Linked DNA regions of Homo sapiens. The protein of the gene in region 5 purifies or fractionates together with the protein of the main gene of each other region. This does not show direct contact. Each region holds a gene or a part of one and is shown on either strand. Other genes may lie near its edges. The genes, in order: NDUFAF7, GNB4, NAAA, RAP1B, RD3 and CSNK1G3.

Evidence for each region.
Region 1: the proteins of RD3 (region 5) and NDUFAF7 purify together in Homo sapiens (affinity purification with mass spectrometry; 3 studies listed by BioGRID and IntAct, with this or other methods). This does not show direct contact.
Region 2: the proteins of RD3 (region 5) and GNB4 purify together in Homo sapiens (affinity purification with mass spectrometry, with the first as the bait; one large-scale study listed by BioGRID). This does not show direct contact.
Region 3: the proteins of RD3 (region 5) and NAAA purify together in Homo sapiens (affinity purification with mass spectrometry; one large-scale study listed by BioGRID and IntAct). This does not show direct contact.
Region 4: the proteins of RD3 (region 5) and RAP1B purify together in Homo sapiens (affinity purification with mass spectrometry, with the first as the bait; one large-scale study listed by BioGRID). This does not show direct contact.
Region 6: the proteins of RD3 (region 5) and CSNK1G3 purify together in Homo sapiens (affinity purification with mass spectrometry, with the first as the bait; one large-scale study listed by BioGRID). This does not show direct contact.

What each region holds. Positions count from the first base shown.
Region 1 is NC_000002.12:37,230,432-37,234,457, reverse strand, and holds the start of NDUFAF7 (protein arginine methyltransferase NDUFAF7, mitochondrial), read right to left. Parts: upstream 2,801-4,026; 5' UTR 2,753-2,800; coding exon 2,698-2,752; intron 2,626-2,697; exon of another isoform or gene 2,579-2,625; intron 2,353-2,578; coding exon 2,192-2,352; intron 1-2,191. Other genes in the region: CEBPZ (CCAAT/enhancer-binding protein zeta), read left to right, coding at 2,891-3,046. UniProt on the Homo sapiens protein: Arginine methyltransferase involved in the assembly or stability of mitochondrial NADH:ubiquinone oxidoreductase complex (complex I).
Region 2 is NC_000003.12:179,416,971-179,420,470, reverse strand, and holds part of GNB4 (guanine nucleotide-binding protein subunit beta-4), read left to right. Parts: intron 1-965; coding exon 966-1,072; intron 1,073-3,500. UniProt on the Homo sapiens protein: Guanine nucleotide-binding proteins (G proteins) are involved as a modulator or transducer in various transmembrane signaling systems.
Region 3 is NC_000004.12:75,938,214-75,942,168, reverse strand, and holds the start of NAAA (N-acylethanolamine-hydrolyzing acid amidase isoform 1 precursor), read left to right. Parts: upstream 1-1,155; 5' UTR 1,156-1,219; coding exon 1,220-1,425; intron 1,426-2,003; coding exon 2,004-2,168; intron 2,169-3,955.
Region 4 is NC_000012.12:68,613,899-68,617,398, forward strand, and holds part of RAP1B (ras-related protein Rap-1b isoform 1 precursor), read left to right. Parts: intron 1-3,500. UniProt on the Homo sapiens protein: GTP-binding protein that possesses intrinsic GTPase activity. Contributes to the polarizing activity of KRIT1 and CDH5 in the establishment and maintenance of correct endothelial cell polarity and vascular lumen.
Region 5 is NC_000001.11:211,482,163-211,485,662, reverse strand, and holds part of RD3 (protein RD3), read left to right. Parts: intron 1-3,500.
Region 6 is NC_000005.10:123,613,177-123,615,362, reverse strand, and holds part of CSNK1G3 (casein kinase I isoform gamma-3), read right to left. Parts: intron 1,022-2,186; coding exon 967-1,021; 3' UTR 1-966. UniProt on the Homo sapiens protein: Serine/threonine-protein kinase. Casein kinases are operationally defined by their preferential utilization of acidic proteins such as caseins as substrates. It can phosphorylate a large number of proteins. Participates in Wnt signaling.

The DNA.
Region 1 (4,026 bases), on a different chromosome or scaffold from region 5:
GTATCAAATGTTCTAAAAAATGTGATATATACACTTCTTTACTAGTGTATTAAAAAAATATAATTAGGCCGCGCACAGTGGCTCACACCTGTAATCCCAACACTTTAGGAGGCTGAGACAGGCGGATCATATGAGGCCAGGAGTTCAAGACCAGCCTGGCCAACAAGGCAAAACCCGATCTCCATTGAAAATACAAAAAACCTAGCTGGGCATGGAAACATACACCTGTAATCCCAACTACTCGGGAGGCTGAGGCACAAGAATCCTTTGAACCTTGAAGGTGGAGGTTGCAGTGAGCCAAGATTGCACTACTGCACTCCAGCCTGGGTGACAGAATGAGACTCTATCTCAAAAAGCCAACAAACAAAAAAGCCCATAATCAAGCCAAAGACCCAATAATTAACAAAATTTTGAAGTAAGGATGAGCACGATGAAATCCTGAGATGCCTGTGATCACTGTATTGTGATAAGGAAATACCAATGATTTCCACAGATGACAAAGTCACAGGTATTGCTGATGCTACTAGTTGCTGCGTATGTTCATAATTGAAGAAATGCTAAATTTCAGTTGAAAGTTAGTGAAAATAAAGGTATAATATTTTTTCCATCCAGCTTCATGAAACCCCTGATTTCTATTAAAGGGTCCCTAGGTTAAGAGCCTCTACATTTTAGAGTTACCCCTACTCTCAATGCTGGGAAACCTTCCTTTCTCTCAGTATGTTCTCCCTGGTTCCTTGGCTTTAAATATGACCTATATGCTGATGACGAGCAAATGTATATATGCCTGCCCAGTCTTTCTTCTGAACACCAGGCTCACTTTTTTTTTTTTTTTTTTTGAGACAGAGTCTCGCTCTGTTGCCCAGGCTGGAGTGCAATGGCGAAATCTAGGCTCACTGCAACCTCTGCGTCCCGGGTTCAAGCGATTCTCCTGCCTCCTGACTAGCTGGGATTACAGGCACAAGCCACCACGCCCGGCTAATTTTTGTATTTTTAATAGAGACGGGGTTTCACCAAGTTGGTCAGGCTGGTCTCAAACTCCTGACCTCGTGATCCACCCGCCTTGGCCTCCCAAAGTGCTGGGATTACAGGCGTGAGCCGCCACGTCCGGCCCTGAACGCCAGACTCTTACAGCGAATTGCCTACTTTCTATCTCCACCTGCATGTCACTGCTAACAAAATATGTATAAAATGCAGCTCCTGGTGTAGGCCCTCTCCCTAGTACTCCTCCAAACCTGGTCCTGTCTGTCTTAATCTCAATAAAAGGTACCATCATCACCCAACTGCTCAAGCTAAAAGTACGAATCAGCCTTGATTCCTCCGTTCCATCACTCAATCCATCGGCAAATCCTGTCAGTCCCTTTCTAAATCACCCTCTTCTATTTCTAGTACCACCACACTAGTCTAAGCCACCTATCTTGCAGCCCTGCCTAACCGGCATCGAAAGAAAGATACCGGCCTTGGGTAAACCTCGACACTAGAGTCACACTACCATATCCAACAACAATGGCCAATCTAACCCCAGAATTCCACAGAGGTCATATTTCAACCCAGCAAAAGATGAAATATTCTAAAATAAAGGACTATAGGCTTTCACCAAATGGCTCTGTAGAACAGACAAGGAAACGTGGGTCAGAAAGCTGTGACTGTGCCTAATCCTAGAACAGTGAAGACGACCCAGACTGCATTCTCAACTGCACATGTGAGAAAACCCAGCACATGTCTCCAATGCCAGCTGAAGCCATTCCAACACAGACGACTTTCCAGGCAGTAATTCCTATTTCCAGCTGCCTGTTGGAGATTTCTACCTAAGAGTCCCACACACTTCAAATTCATATACCAGCCTGAACTCTCCATCCTTCCTCCCGTATTCCTTCTCCCAAAGCAATGAATCCACACCACCCACCATCAGCCAAGTAGGAAAGTCATCCTTCCCGCATCATAAATCCAATCAGCTACATTCTGTCTCCTAAACACCCTTGGACCGTGTCCTCTCCTCTTTACTGGCACTGCCTCTGACGTGAGCCAGCCCTGACCAACTGACAAATTATCTGTCCCCAGGTCCTCAGAAATGGCTCTTCCCCTGGCAGGCACCCCCACTGCCTGGGCTGAGAACCTTCGGGCTTCTCCCTCCTGGCTTGCACCTCGCAAATCGGCTAGAGAGGGCCTAGTCCTCGGGCTACCCGACCCATACCTTGGCTGGATTAGTCAACACCTCCTTCATGTACTCGGCCACAGTGATGGGACCAGTAGACTTTATTTTGTACATAAGATGCCGCAGCATCGGCGTCACCGGGTTTTCTGCAGGCTCATTCCCGGAGCTGAAGTATTTCCCTCTCCAAATAAAAGGAATGGCTGCGAAAAACACAAATTAAACAGACCCCATGATAAATCTGACCATTCACGAGCGCAAGCCGCCTGAGCGTTTTCAAAACAGCTTCGTGAACCCTTAACCTCGCCCCACCGCAGACCGCGGGCTACTGTGCTTAGCACGCCCACGGGGCGCAGAGACAGCACCCACTTGCCCACGACTACGCAGCCCTATTGCGTTTGTACCGGACCCGTTTCCAGCCCAGGGTACCTTCAAGGTGGAAGTGAGCCCCCGAGCCCTTGATCCCCCGGTACCCTCAACTGAAGAGCTGAGGAAGGCGCCCCACGCGGCTTCCACGGCAACCGGGCTTCGAGGGGACTGACGCTTACCTGCGCGCGCCACGGCACACAACGGCCCCAAACCTGACCTCAGCAGTACACTCATGCTGAAATTCGCAGGCTAGCTCGCTCCGCCAGGAGCTGGGGCTTAGACCATTTCCGGGAGAAGACACGCCCCGACAGGAATTACGCCACTGGCAGAGCGGAAATAGGCTGAGTTTCACGCGCGTATGCTTTGCCCGCCATGGCCGCAGTCAAGGAGCCTTTGGAGTTCCATGCCAAGCGGCCTTGGCGCCCCGAGGAGGCAGTAGAAGATCCGGACGAGGAGGATGAGGATAATACTAGTGAAGCCGAGAATGGGTTCTCCCTGGAGGAAGTGTTACGGCTCGGAGGCACCAAGGTAACGGCCGCGGGCTCCGGGGAACGGGATCAGGCGTGGAGAGTTCCGAAGGTGGCTAGGCTGACTGCCCCGCCGCTTCCGCGCTGCGTAGAGCGCGGGCGTCCAGGACCGAGATCCCAGCCTCTGAAGCATGTGTTCGGTGCGCTTCCCACGCCGGTTTCCACTGCTGTTTACAAAAGAAAAGTTTCGAATTGAACGTTGTATTCTCTGGCTATTCTTAGGATGTAGGCGATCTTCTGATTTTATTGACGTGGTATAACCATCACACCATCAGGTCGGAGAGTGGCTTTTCTTGGTCCTGACCTTGTGGTATGAGTGTTTTGAACACCAGTGGTATTGGAATTTTCATTTCTGTTCTCATAGAGTACATGCACGTGTCACTGTATGCCCCAGAAGCCCTCTTTTTTGGAGCATCCTAATTAAGGGAGAGAAACAGTAAACAAACTTTTAAACACATAGTACAGCAGACGCGGGGTAGTGCTATAAAAGAAAATAAAACAAGGAAGGACGATAAGGAGTGGGAGCGCGTTAGTATTAAATGAGATGATCGACAAACACATCACGGAAATGTTTGAGCAGAATCCTAAAGGACAGGAAGGAGTGAGCTGCCATTCCAGTCAGTTGGAACAGCAAATGCAAAGACAGGCAGAAGAGTGCCTAACCTATTCCATGAGCAGCCAAAATGCCAGTGTAGCAGAGGCAGAGTGAGTTAAGGGGAGAATAGTAAGAAAGGAGGGCCGAGGGGTCAGAGGGCAGGCTTTTGCTCTGAGTTTGATGCAAAACCACTGGAAGATTTTAAGCAGATAAGGAACAGAAATTAACTTTGTTTTTAATATTATTTTGTTTGGAGACTGGACTTTCAAGGTGGAGGAGTTAGTTAGAGATAGGCAGATTCACAGTTTGCTCTGTGCTTGTGTATATTTAAGTTTTGAATAGGTAATATATACACATGAAACACGTGGTGCAAACTTTAAAAGATA
Region 2 (3,500 bases), on a different chromosome or scaffold from region 5:
TATATATATATATATGTATATATATTTTCAAGGCCAAGCATGGTGGCTCATGTCTGTAATCCCAGTACTTTGGGAGGCCGAGGTGGGAGGATCACTTGAGGTCAAGAGTTTGAGGCCAGCCTGGCCAACATGGTGAAACCCTGTCTCTACTAGAAAAAAAAAAAAAACATGAAAGTTAGCTGGTCATGGTGGTGCCTGCCTGTAATCCCAGCTACTTGGTAGGCTGAGGCAGGATAATCGCTTGAACCTGGGAGGCAGATATTGCAATGAGCCGAGATCCCTACTGCATTCCAGCCCAGGAGACAAAGTGAGACTCTGTCTCGAAAAAAAAAAAATTATATATATTTATGTATGTATATATATATGTATGTATAGATTCATATAGTTTATGCTTCTTTTTAAATAGTTTCTGATTCTTTTTGGTATACCCTGATTAAGTGTTTTTTTCCTTATGAAAACTCTTAGGTTGGGAATGAGATAGTAAGAGGGGTCAAGAAGACTAATATTTTTAAAAAATCTTGGGAAGGCTTCATGTTTAATTAATATTGATCATTATTATTAAGGAAGTATTTTATGTGCTCTACAAATATAAAATTGGCTTTCTTACAGTTAAAATTGTAAATGTTTACTGTGATCATTTGCCTCTAGATTTTTATTTGTGGCTGGTTTTTTACTAAAGCATAGAGGTATATCTATTCTTTTTAGTTAATAGTCTGCAGAAGGCATTCTTATTATACATTTATGTATATTATTTATAACAGCACATAGGATTATTTTAAACTAATCATAATTTTCAGGAACATATTGATCCCATAACGGCTCTGTGGAATTATATACATTAAATTACCTTCAGTTACTATAAATGTACTTTATGTTTGCTTTTTTAACTCCTCACTGTTTCTAGTTCAAGTTATCTCATGAACTATGATTAAGGTAAAGAATAACATTTTTGTTGCTTTCAAAAGATTACATCAAATATGGACTCTGTGGGTCGAATACAAATGCGAACAAGACGTACACTGAGGGGCCACCTAGCTAAAATCTATGCTATGCATTGGGGATACGATTCCAGGTTTGTACCTGTCATTACCTGTCATTTTTAAACTGTTGCAGAATTATTTTCATTAAGAACCATCATTTGCATTTTCTTTGTTTAAAAACAGAATATATTCATGAAGCGTTTGCAGAAAATGCATCTCAGATGAACATGCTGCTTTCAATAAGAATATTAATTGACTCTTTAAAAGTATAAACATTTTTAATATGGAATCCAGGACAACTGTTCAGAAGAGGATTCCTTTTCTTTGCAGTGGAACATTGCAGACATTCTTTGTTTTTTAAATAGGCACAAAGCGTTTTTACTGTATATGAAGCTTGAAATTTCAGTTCATAAGCAAATACGTATTGAACACCTATGTGCAAGTTTTTGGATATTGCTATAGTTTGTTATTACATAAATTCGCAAATAATGGAAATTACATGAAACAAAGGTGTTTGTACTGAATACATCTTTTACTCCCTCGACTGCATCACAGAAAGGTGTGTGCTTGAATGTGCAAGCTGACCATCTGCAGGTGCACAGGCACACGCACAGCTGCTACGTGGCCTACAGTTAGATAGATTGCTCATCACTGTCATTCACTATGTGTATAAGGCTACAGCACAGCCTATGTTTTTCCATTGTCTGGCAATAGCAGATGTGTCTGCTATCACAGTGGTTTACTTGTTCCTTTGATTTGGTTAATCTTAATGGGAAATGCCTAAACCAAGAAACTTCTATGTTTTAATAGAAGTTGCACATTTATTCTCTTCTCCCAGGAGACACTAAAATTATAAAGTAGAAGAAGCCTCAATTGTTGCTCTAATTGGGATACTTGACCACAATAATATAGAACATGTGCCTCTTACGAAGGGATACATAAAATTATATAATTGGCAACTGACATAATGTCTTAATCTTTTTCTTTTTCTTTTCTTTTTTCTTTTTTTTTTTTTTTTTTGAGACAGAGTTTCACTCTTGTTGCCCAGGCTGGAGTACAATGGTGTGGTATCGGCTCACTGCAACCTCTGCCTCCCAGGTTCAAGGGATTTTCCTGCTTCAGCCTCCCAAGTAGCTGGGATTACAGACATCCACAACCACGCCTGACTAATTTTTGTATTTTTAGTAGAGAGGGGGTTTCACCATGTTAGCCAGCCTGGTCTTGAACTCCTGACCTCAGGTGATCCAACCGCCTCAGCCTCCCAAAGTGCTGGGATTAATCAGGTGTGAGCCACCGCGCCTGGCCGAATGTCTTATTCTTTTTCTTAAAGGAGTTGAAGATAAAAATAATTTACCTGTTGATAAAGCAAAATTTTAACTTAAAATATAGTAACTTGAAACAATGTTTATGGTTCTTGCTTTCCTTAAACGTTTTCTGAAGACTGTTAATCTTCATAGAAAAATGAAACCATCATCCAGGAACCTATCTCACATAGTCTTCCCACCCATCCGTGTTATCAATCCATTACTTAATGTTCTCCTCAACTCTTATGCTGATGATGCCAATTGATTTCTAAAGAATTTTCTTTAGATGCCATCCTATACCCCACTATCAGATAGATCTTCCCTTTTGTAAAACCTTGTAGTGATTGCTACCCAAGAATCTGATAATGTTATTTACCTCTAGGGAAAGGAACTGGGTGGCTGATGATAGGCCCAGGAAGGTGCTTTTTAAATTTTCTTCTGTATATCCTTTTTTATTTTTTGAATTTTACACCATGGTGAAAAGTAAAAATTCCAAACAAGGCTGGGCATGGTGGCTCATGCCTGTAATCCCAGAACTTTGGGAGGCCAAGCGAGTGGATCACTTGAGGTCAAGAGTTCAAGACCAGCCTGACCAACATGTTGAGATCCCATCTTACCAGTCGTGGTGGTGCACACCTGTTATGCCAGCTATTCGGGAGGCTGAGGCAGGAGAATCACTTGAACCTGAGAGGCGGAGGTTGCAGTGGGCTGAGATCGTGCCATTGCACTCTAACCTGGGTGTCACAGTGAGTGTCTGTCTCAAAAAAAAAAAAAAAATCCAAACAAAACAAAAAATTTAGTGGCTAAAATTACTTAGGAGTTCATACTCTTTAGTTTAACAAAGCTTTCTGCAGTTTAAGCCCAGTCTGCTTTTCTCAACTTATTTTTCCATTTTCTCACAAACTGTACTACTGGAAGACCCACAATTCCTGAAACAACACTCAGTGTATTTTTCTACCTGTCATTGATCTTACATAGCTTTCTCCTAAAATACAGCCTTTTCTGTATCTTTAGCTCTCAACATTTTCTTTCAAGACTCATTCTCTTGTGATTAACTCATCTAGCCATTGTTCCTCCTTTACTCTCCTGTGGCATTTATTTTATACCCCTCTTCTGACAGTTTTTACTTACTTGATTTAATATAAATATGAGTAAATGTCTTATCTTCACCAGATGGTAGAGGCCTCAAGAGCAGGCGATGTATCCTGCGTTGTAC
Region 3 (3,955 bases), on a different chromosome or scaffold from region 5:
GCTAATTTTTGTATTTTTAGTAGAGACAGGGTTTCACCATGTTGGCCAGGCTGGTCTCAAACTTCTGACCTCAGGTGATCCACCCGCCTCAGCCCCCCAAACTGCTGGGATTACAAGCCTAAGCCACCATGCCCGGCCCTTTCATTTAGTTTCTACTATTCATGTACACATGTACCCTGTTTTACCCACAGACAACTGTGCTAACCGTTAAGAATGTCCCAGCCTTACTAAGATTTTCCTAAGTTTGTCTCCCAGACATTGGGAACTCAAAGGTGAAGAAACTTAGGTGTGAAGGTGGATTGTGGATTCAGACCTCCTTACTTGGAGGCCAGTGCAGAGACACACCAGCAGAGTAACCTCGGGTACATGGCTTCACCTCTCCAAGCCTCACACTCCTCATCAGTAAAGCGAGGATTAGTGGAACCTACCTGTTGGCTTGTTTTGATGATTAAATGAGATAATGTCCGCGAAAAATATTTAGCAGATAAATGTTCACTAAATTTTGAGCTTTAAAAAAATGTTTTACCAGCCAGGCGCGGTGGCTCACGCCTGTAATCCCAGCACTTTGGGAGGCTGAGGCCGGTGGATCACCTTAGGTCAGGAATTCGAGACTAGTCTGGCCAACATGGTGAAACCCTGTCCCTACCAAAAATACAAAAATTAGCCAGGTATGGTGGTGGACGCCTGTAATCCCAGCTACTTGAGAGGCTGAGGCAGGAGAATCGCTTGAACCCAGGAGGCGGAGTTGGCAGTGAGCGGATATCTCGCCGCCGCACTCCAGCCTGGGCAATAGAGTGAGACTACATCTCAAACAAACAAACAAACAAGCAAACAAAGTTTAACTGAAAAGTCTTTCCTGACACCTTTTCGCTACTGAAAATCTTACAGCCCCTCCCGGCCGCAGCCTACACTCCTTCGGCCCAAGCAGGTGCGCTGGAACCGGCAGTTGGTGAGAAGCCGGCTGCCGGCAGCCCCAACCCTTAGCGGCCCCGCGGTCAGGGACCTCCAGGCCCGATGGAGAGTCGGGGCGGGCTAGTGGATGCGCGGCGGGGACGGGAGGTGTCGCCGCTCCGGCTTGCCGGTGACAGGGGCGGGCGGGTCGTGCGCGGGCCCCACCTCCAGCGATCGCAGCCCAGCCCCAGCTCCTCCTCCTCCACGGCTTACCCGGGCTCCGACAGCGGCTGCAGGTCTCCAAGTTGCGGCCGCTGGAGCCCGAGCCATGCGGACCGCGGACCGGGAGGCGCGCCCGGGGCTTCCGTCCCTGCTGCTGCTGCTGCTGGCCGGGGCCGGGCTGTCAGCCGCCTCGCCCCCAGCAGCGCCGCGCTTCAACGTGAGCCTGGACTCGGTCCCCGAGCTGCGCTGGCTGCCCGTGCTGCGGCACTACGACTTGGACTTGGTGCGCGCCGCGATGGCGCAAGTCATCGGGTGAGCTGGGGCCCTGGACGGGGTCTGCGGGGACACCGGCCCTGCGGGTCGGAGTCAAACGCGCGCTGCTCAGAGTGCTTTAAACGGGGACGCTTTACTCCCCGCCACCCTTGGAGAACTGGTTTTGGCTGCCGCCCTGAGCAGCGTCCGGGTTGGGGAGAATCCAGCGCGGCAGGTTCGGCTTTCAAGTTCGGTGTCACCCGTGGCACGCCAGTCCTTGAGCCATTCCGGGTCAGCGTGGCGCGCGAGTTGTCGCCCGGGCTGCATAGCTACCAAGGAGGGGCAACCCGCGCCTTCCTTGCGGGCCTCGCGGGCCTTCCAAGCTTGCCCCTTTGGGACCAGCCTCACTCGCCCTCCCCATTCGGAGTTTTCTTACCCGCCGCCTTCCCCCCGCCCCCTTCCCCCCACTCCCGGGAGGCTGCAGATTGAGTGACGCCGCGCCTGGGCGGTCCACTGACTGGGGAGCAGTGGCCCTGAGACCTCACGCCCTAAGGATGTAGCCCCGCTCGCAGTGCACACGCAGTCGCACGCCGCCGACCTCTGAGCGGGTCAGACGCCCTTGTGCTTTTTGTTTCTAGGGACAGAGTCCCCAAGTGGGTGCACGTGTTAATCGGAAAAGTGGTCCTGGAGCTGGAGCGCTTCCTGCCCCAGCCCTTCACCGGCGAGATCCGCGGCATGTGTGACTTCATGAACCTCAGCCTGGCGGACTGCCTTCTGGTCAACCTGGCCTACGAGTCCTCCGTGTGAGTGCCCCAAGCCCGCGCGGAGTAACGCGGGGCTTGCGGGGGCCCCCGACACAGACTAGCGGGAGGAGACATATTTTCCGTGTGATAAAAACAGGGCGGTGCCTGCTTGCCTAGAAACCTCCAGCGCTTCCTCTTTGCCTCTCTGGGTAAATCTGAGCTGCACATCGTAGGCTTCGAGAGGGAAAGCAGATTCTCCGATTCAACACTAAACTTTCCCTCTACGTGTAGCCCCGGGTTTTCTCTTCCCCAATCCAGGTAGCGTACTTTTAAAATTCTGCTCAAAGGCCGGGCGCGTTGGCTCACACCTGTAATCCCAGCACTTTGGGAGGCCAAGGTGGGCAGATCACGAGGTTAGGAGTTCGAGATCAGCCTGGCCAACATAGTGAAACCCCGTCTCTACGAAAAACACAAAAAATTAGCCAGGCGTGGTGGTGGGCGCCTGTAATCCCAGCTACTTAGGAGGTTGAGGCAGGAGAATCACTTGAACCCGGGAGGCGGAGGTTGCAGCGAGCCGCGATCGCGCCACTGCACACCAGCCCTGGCGACAGTGCGAGACTCTGTCTCAAAAAAAAAAAAAAAAAAATTCTGCTCAAAACGTACTTTTCCAGGAAGTTTTTGAAACTAAGCCTCCTCTCATCTGGACCCTTTAGTTAACTCAGTGGCCTTCCAGCTCTATACTGGCAGTGGCTCATCTCTGCCCTTATTTGTCGCCCTGCATTTATCCTTTCATGTGTGTCGTGGCTGAAGTGTCTGTGTCCACCAGGGCTGGGGCGACAGGGAACACTGCTCTAATAGGGCCAGCCAGTGTTTGGACCGGGAAGTGGGCATGATAAAATGTGCATCCAGGCTGGGCGCGGTGGCTCACGCCTGTAATCCCAGCACTTTGGGAGGCCGAGGCGGGTGAATCACCTGAGGTCAGGAGTTCAAGACCAGCCTGGCCAACATGGTGAAACCCCGTCTCTACTAATAATACAAAAAAATTACCAGGGCCTGGTGGCGGGCACCTGTGAATCCCAGCTACTTGGGAGGCCGAGGCAGGAGAATCACTTGAACCCAGGAGGCAGAGGTTGCAGTGAGCCAAGATGGCACCATTGCACTCTGCAGCCTGGGCGACAAAGCGAGATTCCATATCAAAGAAAAAAAGTGCACCCAGAAGTGAAAGCAACATGGAGTGTGTGGTTGATCCCAGGCAAAGTGCAGGGGACCACTAAAGGTTTATGGGCTCAGTAATAGGCCCTGGAATAAAGAGAGGTTTTGACTTGGTTTCTTCCTTCAATACTTATTGTTTTGCCAGCAGACTAGCTTCATCTCGTAACCTCTTGTACATACTTAGAGCTTCTTGCTGCCTAAAGATGATGGGGGTAGAAAAGATCTTGGAATAATGAAACTTTACTGGCCCAGGCATTTTCCCAGAACACCTAGGCAGAGTAAGCTAAAAAGCACTGGGACTGCCTTCCTCTTCAGGAAATGCTTTCAGGCACAGAAAAGACACAGGCCTGCTAAATAACATGCTTTTCAGTTGAACTAAGTTATTATAATTTTACCACCTCCCTCTCCTACCTCCAACTTTTTCCTATTTTTAACTTACAGCTTTCTCAATGAAAAATCACGAATCATTTTTACCCTCATCTGTTGGAGTCACCATATTCAAACACATTAAAGCAAAAGTTCTAGTAAAAACATTCTAACTTTTGGATTTGATACTAAGGTATTTATTGAATTGCCTAATAGCACCATTCAATTCACTAGCATTAACAAAGGAAATGCTTTCTTCTCATGTTGGA
Region 4 (3,500 bases), on a different chromosome or scaffold from region 5:
TTCAGAATTCCAATATTTTCTCTTAGCTGTATAAAGGTAAAGTGACCCCCTCCCATAATAAAGAGCTACCATGTAAGGAGGGTATAGCAAAGAATTAATTATTAAAATAACTAGATCCATTTTTGTAAGGATCCTTTCAATTGTATCTTCCTATCTAATTCAAGATTGGTGGAAGGTCTATGCAAAGATTGATAACATGGTAACTGATTAGACATGTTATTTTAAATGCAGTCCAAGATTTGGATGAAAAGCTCACGTTCAGGTTTTTTTTGCCTTTTGTTGTAGGTACTCGATAAATATTTATTGAGGTAGTGAAACTAATCTGAAATTGGATCTGATACAGAGAATTTGACCGATTTTACAAGGTGTCCATTTACTTTTTCCCCATAAGTATTGTTTAAATAGGCTGTTTTATTATCGACTATCACACAGATCTTACTGATTTGCCTCATTTCCTTAAAGATGTAAAATAACTGTGTTTCTCTGTATGTTTGTGTTGCTAAAGAGGAGGTTGGGTATTGATCTGCAGTTTCTAGATTTGACTGGCACTAGGAGTAATTTAGCATTTATGAATTAGCTATTTACTGCTGTTTTATAGCAGTGATGTCACGTGTTCACTCTATAGAAAAGTTAGGTAAAGATTGGTCTGTCTTAAACTTTCTGAGACATAGGTTGTGACTAAAAATATGCCCTGGGTTTTCTTCCCCCTCCTGTCATTATTGAGGACTCCATGGTCTAAGAGATTAGGCTGAAGTTTTTGTTAGCCTTTTCAAATTGAATTGAATTTTAGAACAAGTTAAGACATTTTGGCTGATGCAGTGATTCATTGTAACATTGGACAAAATTTTTAGTTCAGCCATCTGTAAACAGGAGTACTGTACCATGGCTCTGGAAGCTAGTGTTTTTCTGTGTTCATAGATTATTTTGCAATGGTATTGAAAGGTACTAATTGCCATTTGAGGTCTTAAGTTCTTTGTAAATCTCATAAGCACAGTGGAAGCAGTAGCTACAAAGAATAGATGAATTTATCCATTTGCAGTAAAAACTGATTTGTATGTAATCTGTTGTACTTTGAACCCAGTTGAGCACTGGATTCTAAAACAAGTCTCTTTGGTCGTGGAGAGTTTCTATTTTAAACAAGAAAAGTTATCAGGAACTTTTGTGCTGCCTTAAAAACATCACTTTTTAAAATTCACCAGCAACAAAAAATAGTATCACTTACATTCCGTATTTCATAACATTGGACTATTTATTCCTAATGTTGGTCAAATCAAGGGTACAGTAGCAACTGATTATTTAAGCAGTAATTTAGAAAGATTTTTTTTCCTTTGAATCAGTAGAGGGTCAAAATTTTTAAAACTTTCCAAAGAACCTTAAAACAGGAAAAAATGAAAATGTGGGGGAAATGTACCAGTTTTTTTTAATTTAAATTCCCTAAAATAAAAATATTTACAACATGAGTTACAGAATTTCCATCTGATTTTTATTGTACAGGAGGAGTATATTCTGTGATATCAGTATACAATTCAAAATACAAAAAATTACCTGGGCGTAGTGGGAGGTGCCTGTAATCCGAGCTGCTTGGGAGACTGAGGCAGGAGAATCGCTTGAACCTGGGAGGCGGAGGTTGCAGTGAGCCAAGATCGCTCCACTGCACTCCAACCTGGGCGACAGAGTGAGACTGTCAAAAAAAAAAAAATTACTTAGATTGTGTATGAGGTGCCTGCATACTAGAAATGTTCTTTTGAGTTACAAATCTGTCTCTCTGACCATAGAGAGTAATTATTTAATCTTGTGAGTTTGAGTTTTATATCAAACCATTTCCTAAAGCTTACTTGTAATTACTTTTACTTTATGTTTTTGTAGTTATACATGTGTATATATATACACATACATACACACACACATATACATATATCAGTGAGACCTTTTAAATTTTAGCTGAATTCTGGTTTCATAACTTGTGATTTTTTTTCCGGTACTGGGGGATTGAATGTTTTTAACTGTTGTGCAGATAGACTGAATAAAGGAAGTGAGCATCCATTAAAAACTCTAGTAAATAATTTGGATTTTTTTTTTTTTTGAGATGGAGTCCCACTCTGTCGCCCAGGCTGGAGTGCAGTGGCACGGTCTCCGCTCACTGCAAGCTCCGCCTCCAGGGTTCACGCCATTCACCTGCCTCAGCCTCCCGAGTAGCTGAGACTACAGGCGCCCGCCACCACACCTGGCTAATTTTTTGTGTTTTAGTAGAGACGGGGTTTCACTGTGTTAGCCAGGATGGTCTGGATCTCCTGACCTCGAGATCCACCTGCCTCGGCCTCCCAAAGTGCTGGGATTACAGGCGTGAGCCACTGTGCCCGGCCTTTGTTTTTTTGTTGTTGTTGTTTTGTTTTTTGTTTTTTTTGAGACAGAGTCTCGCTCTGTCAGTCAGGCTGGAGTGCAGTGGCACGATCTCAGTTCACCACAGCCTCCGCCTCCAGGGGTCAAGCAGTCCTCCAGTCTAAGCCTCCCGAGTAGCTGGGAATACTGTGCCTGGCTAATTTTTTTTTTTTTTTTTTTTTTTTTTGAGACGGAGTCTCTCTCTGTCCCCCAGGCTGGAGTGCAGTGGTGCAATCTCAGCTCACTGCAACCTCCGCCTCCAGGTTCAAGCAGATCTCCTGCCTTAGCTAGTACTACAGGCGCACACCACCGCACCCAGCTAAGTTTTGTATTTTTAGTAGAGAGGGGATTTCACCATATTGGTCAGGCTGGTCTCGAATTCCTGACCTCAGGTGATCCACCTGGCTTGGCCTCCCAAAGTGCTGGGATTACAGGCATGAGCCACCGCGCCCGGCCAGGTTTTGTATTTTTTGTAGAGACGTTTCGCCATGTTGCCCAAGCTCACCTCAAACTCGTGGGCTCAAGGGATCTGCCCATCTTGGCCTCCCAAGTGCTGGGATTATAGGCATGAGCCACTGTGCCTGGCCCAGCATTTCACTAAGTAACTTTATTTTAAAAATATACAGTGAACTGATTGCCGAAGTGGTGGATTGCCTCTACCTGTTTCCTTTTTCTTTGCCTTGTAGGAAGGGAAAAAGATGAAAGGAAACATGTTTTGTCTATTTAGTAGCAATTTTTGGTGAAAGCTTCTGGAAAGGAAATGGAAAATGCTGGGTAAAATGAAATTATAATTATCTGTGTATTCTAAAATTTATCCTCACATTAGAATATATTTTTCAAAGTTACTTTATACTAAATTCAGGGACTTTCTAAGTTCTCAGTTAATAGAACTGAAAGGGTATCAATAAAATAAGGACTATATATATAATCTATTTTTACTTAGTTTTTATGCGCCAAAAGGTATGTATGTTGCATCCAGCTGTTTGTTACCTTGTGTTTTAAAGTTGCAGTTAGAATGTGGAATCCTATTACTACATTGTGCCAACATATTTGTGGCTGATGCTTCTAAGTTATCCACAAGCTTCTCAATACAATAGCAAAATGCAGGAATTCCTCTGGAA
Region 5 (3,500 bases):
TGTAGAAAATTGTGCCAGACACTCACCAAAGGTCACTCTTTCTGTTGTTTAACAGACCTCCCCCAGGCACCACGTCCTTCCCAGTCTCAGCCGAGGTTCAGGTTCTGGGGATACCCTGGGATAAGGCAGCCCCCTCTGGAGTCTGTCTAGCCTGCCCTCCTGCCTCTCTGTCTCTGTTCTTCCTCCCTCTGTCTCTCCCTCCCTCCTTTGCCCTTAAGAACTTAATCGGACCCACTGAAGAGCCTTCTGGGGGAGCAGCTGGCACTGGGGACAGAAATAGCACCAGCAGAAATCTTGTTTCTGCCAAAGCCTCCAGTCCTGGCCAGAGTTGCGGGAAGTGAGGGGATGGGGAGGAGATGACTCAGAACACCCTCCTCCCCTGTTGAGACCCTACACCTGGGCCAAAGAGGCTTAGAGCCCACAAAATTCAGGACTCAGGTGGGATCACTCCACTCAGCCCCTGCCATCTGGAGATGGGGGAGGTGGGTCACAAAGCACCTTCTCTAGCGGCCAGCTCAGGTCGGGAGCCTTAAGCCCAGGGAAGCAGGACCCCATACAGGCTGCACCCCAGACTGTACTCGGGCTTGCTTCTGGCCTTACTCTGCCTTGAGGTGAAGTGTCTGGGGGTCCAGGAGACATGCCACCCTGTGGGCACTTCCCTTCGAGGTCAGGCTTAGGGACTGAAATCAGAATTCCCTGCCAGACAGTCGCCCGCCCACTTCCCCACAGAAGGGGCCACTGAGCAGGGCAGACAGCACTGCCAGCGAGCAACCCTAAGTCAGAGGGTGGCACAGAGGTGGCTGGTTGCAGGGGTGTGGCTGGGCCTTGGAGGTGAAAGCTGGGGTGTCCCCACACGTGTTTGCAAGGCCCCTTACCATGTGGGATGAAGCGGAGGTGGGAAGAGAGGGAGGCAGGCTGAGGGCCGAGAGCAGTCCCAACCCACCTCCATGTGTCAGAGAAGAACTCTGAGGAGTCCAAGAATGCTGTCTGAATCTCACCCTCCATGTTGTTAGGAAGGTATAGTTCACAAGGGAGGAAACGGAACATACTTTATTTAATAGTTTGTTAGCTTATGTGGCTGTGGCATGGATATTCTGCAGTCAATTTGCCCTGGAGGCAAAAGTTTTCTTCAGTGTCTTCCATTTCTTCTCTCACATTTCTCCCGGCCACAGGAGAACCCTCTGCTGCCAAGCCACTCTCTTGCTCTCTTCTTTCAGCTCAAATTCAAACCCAGATTAAGAAGAAAAAAAAGCTCCCTAAGGAGCTTTGGAAAATGCCTTCTTGTTCAGGATCAGGTCAGGTCAGGTCTGTGGGGCTTGTTCCTTGATCCAACTGTTATAGCTTCTCCATCATTTATTCGTTCCTTTGTTCGGGCATTCATTCATTCATTTGTTTGCTATTTATTAAGTGCCTACTGACTACATGTCCAGCCCCAGGGATGGAAAGGTGAATAAGGCACAGGCCCTGACCACATACCACACCCGGGGTCAGGGGAGGTAGGCAGTCACGTTCCGTAAAGTGCTCCTGAGCTCTGAAAAGCACCTGTGCAGAGTGCAGTCAGGGGACAAGGTAGAGAGTGGCCACATCTACCTCGGAGATGGGAAGGTCAAGAAAAGCTTCCGAGGGTGCTGACCCTAGACCTGGTCTCCATGTAGAATGGGCGGGCATTTCAGGCAGAGGGAGGAACATGACAAAGGCATGGAGCTGTGCAGTAGCCCAGCACATTCAGTAGCCCTTGCAGGAACAGTGACTCCGCATGCTCGCAGTGCTCTTCAGTGGCTACACCATTCACTCTTTTGGTGCTAAGCATCAATCTAACCCATAGACTTTTAAAAATACAAACACTCCAGGGAAAGTGACACATTCAGTTACAGTTACAGTCCTTGTGCCTGAACTGATGGAATCCTTTAGCCTTAGGCGAGGCTCCTGATGCTCATGGCTCTCTGGCCATGACACCCCCACCCCTGCACTCCCACCCCCCAGTACACACAGTACTACCCAACCTCTTTATTCTGGGCACATAAAGCAGGTAAGGGCTAAGAAGTAAACGTCCTAGCTGCTACTGACCCCAGGAGTAGGGTCTAATGGTTCGTCCTTTCGTCCCACTCTCCCAGGAAGCGGTCAGCTGTGTAATCTGAAGCCTCCATTGGTGATAGGCTTAGGTTGCGTGGAGAATGAAAGTTCTCAGATTTCTTTTTTTTTTTTTTTGAGTTGGAGTCTCGCTCTGTCACCCAGGCTGGAATGCAGTGGCACCATCTCAGCTCACTCCGCCTCCCCAGTTCAAGCAATTCTCCTGCCTCAGCCTCCTGAGTAGCTGGGACTACAGGCATGTGCCACCATGCCCAGCTAATTTTTGTATTCTTAGTAGAGATGGGGTTTCACCATGTTGGCCAGGATGGTCTCAAACTCCTGGCTTCAAGTGAGCTGCCCTCCTCGGCCTCCCAAAGTGCTGGAATCACAGGCATGAGCCATCATGCCTGGCCTGTTTTCAGATTTCTTAATTCTGTTGGTTGCTAAAGGAGTTGGTCATTCAAGTCTCCATCGGTAAGTAGAGATTTAGCTGTGGCCTTCCAGAAGGCTGCTGCTACCCCATCATAATATTCTCCTTTGTGTCTGATTATTTACCTTAACAATTCATTTCTCTGCATTAAGCACTGGGGTGCAGGGTGATGGGAGGGTGGCCTAAAAATGCATGTGTCCTCTGGAGGTGACACCTCCTTCATCACCATGCTGTTGAGACTGAGTTCATCTGACCTCTTTTCTCTGCGTATGGAGGGTCTAAGCAGAAATGGGATCATTGGTGCATGGAAGGGGGAACGGCTTGGAGGGAGAAAGGTGCAGAAAGATGAAGTGAGACCCCTCGAAGACCCACTTCAGGCTTTAGCTCGGGAATGTCATTTCCCTTCACTGTTGTCAGAAGCACAGACCACATCTGACAGGTCATGGAGTAGCTCATTCACCCATTCATTCATTCGTTCATTCATCTACTCGGTCTGTCCTTCACTAAATTTGTATTTAGCAGGCCTGTGTGGGGGCTCCATGATGAGTTAGGCTCGCTGCTGTCAGACCTCCACCTGTCTCACCTTGTTCTATGGCTGGATCCTCCCTCCACCTGGGACCCCTTCTCCATCAGCCCATGTGTCTGAAGCCCGCACTCACCTCTCAGCCCACTCTGGCACTTTTCACCATCTAGGGTCACACCTTCCCCTCCCACATCAGTGCTGACTCTATGCTTCACCAGCAGAGTTCCCTCTCTCCATTGATGTTGCAGCGTTTACTCAACAAATCTTGCCTCTCCTGGAGAGCAGGATCCTGGCATCATCCTTTCGTGTTTATGTCCCTCCACAGATGTGTACACAGTGCTTGATTAATGCTGAATGAATGAATGGTGGGTAAGTTGGTTTTTTTCAGGTTAATGTTAATCCATACAGTTTTTTTTTTAAACGGAGTTTTGCTCTTTTTGCCCAGGCTGGAGTGCAATGGTGTGATCTTGGCTCACC
Region 6 (2,186 bases), on a different chromosome or scaffold from region 5:
ACATCCAAAGTTTTCTGCTTAAGGGAGAATGTAATCATTCAGCAGTAAGTTTCGGTGAGATTTCTTTAGGCTTCCACCTTATACACTGCAACAAGGTTCACATTTACTACCTCTCCTTAGTGTATTTCTTTATAACTCCAACATACATCACTTTTTAAAGTATTCATTTCTTGCTGTCTAACATACATTATTATTTGGAAGCATAAAGTTACATTGTACAAATATTTTGCATTTTTAAAAATAAGCGCTTTTGCCACTTCTGCAACACAGTACTTCACATAGTGATGCAACAAAAGCGGAGCACATATTTACCACACTCCTTAAGATTCATTTTACCACCACCATCTGCCGAACCCATATTGCTTTTTCCTCAGTACCTCTGGGCAGTGACTGTACCATGATTTCACGGAGAGAATGTTAATATGACTTATGAATAACAGTACCATCAGTAATACTGAAATCAATGCAGATGTCACAAAATATGAACTTCTCAAGGAATAACTTCTTTTAAATATTTGGGCAACTCTGTTTTCTCTGTTGTATTATCCACTGAGAAAAGAAAATTCCTGTTTGATTATGCTCTTACAGAAGTTATAAAAAACCAGATTAGGTATATAACTGGTTGACACTTAAGATACTGTACTGCTTTCTACAACAGAAGAACTTCTGGAAAATGTTCTATGGAACTATATTCATTGATACCACCTCATTGGTCCATTCCATTCACTGATGGGCAAAGCACTCATGTTTTGACAAAACTTTAAAGCTTCCATAAAGGTTAAATTAGAGAAAAAAAAAAAAAGAAAAAGAATGTAAGACAACCACAAAATGAAGTATGAAAGTATGACATTTTTGTTTCTAAGAGTGAGTCCTTGAAAATATACGTGGTCACTACAGAGATGATTTTAATCACAAGACAGCAGATGAACATGTAAGTAACTCCCCAGGATCTGTCTGTGTCCAGAGTCATTTGTGGCGCTGTATGGTTTTCCTTTTCCTTCGTTTGAAAAAACAGCAGCACCTGCAGATGAGGGAAACACTCTTTTTATTTTAAAAGCACTAAAATATCACAAAGTTGACTGTATCACTTTAACTTAAATGATCATAAAAAGCAACAGGCTAGTGCAAGATAAACAGTGATTACACCAATGAAGCATACGTATTAGTGAAAATATGGCAGAGCTATTACTATTATGTTTCATTCACATGCCTTTTAAGAATAGCAAGACATTCTATGCAACATAAAAAGGAGCCATTAAATTCAAAAGGTTTTTCACTAAGAGTAATTAAGAATTTCATTCTATGCATTCTCACCCTTTCTCCCTGATATTTATATGTGACTGTTGAAGCCATTAGGAAGGCAATAATGATCCTAACATTGGGGAGTTTATTCTCACCAATAATCAGTTTAGACTCCAAAAATAAAAAGACACTCCAATATACACTAGTCAACATTTTCCATCATATTAAAAAAGTGAAAGACAGAAAATACATTATATAGAATACCAAGACTGGCAATTTTGAATTCTTTAAGGGTTAAAGAAGGTCAAGCTTATTGAAAGTTTAGTTAAGGTAAAAACTATGCTTAATATTTAAAGTAGCACAATTGAGGTGATTCCATTTTACAAGTCAAAACTGTATATGCAAAAAAATATAATACTGACTTTTATTTCTAGGTGAAAAAAAATCTTGGCTGGGCACAGTGGCTCATGCCTGTAATCCCAGCACTTTGAGAGGCCGAGGCAGGAGGATTGCTTGAGCTCAGGAGTTTAAGAATTCAAGACCAGCCTGGACAATACAGCAAGACCCCATCTCTAAATATCTCTCTCTCTCTAACTACATATACACATACACAAATATCTCTAAATATATATATACACACATACATATATAAATGTACACACATATATTATATTATACATACATACGCACACACACACACACACACACATGCACTGGACATGGTGGCACCCGCCTGTTACCCCATCTCCTTGAGAGGCTGAGGCAGGAGGAATGTTTGATCTATGATTGTGCCACTGAACCCCAGTCTGTGTGACAGGGCAAGACCCTGTCTCTAAAAGAGGAGATGAACACATCAAGGCTGCTGTGGGAAAATGCTGTGGTCTGGTATGAACTGAAAAAATCACTGATCTGCTCCCACCAAAAAAAAAAAAGAAAAAAATTAA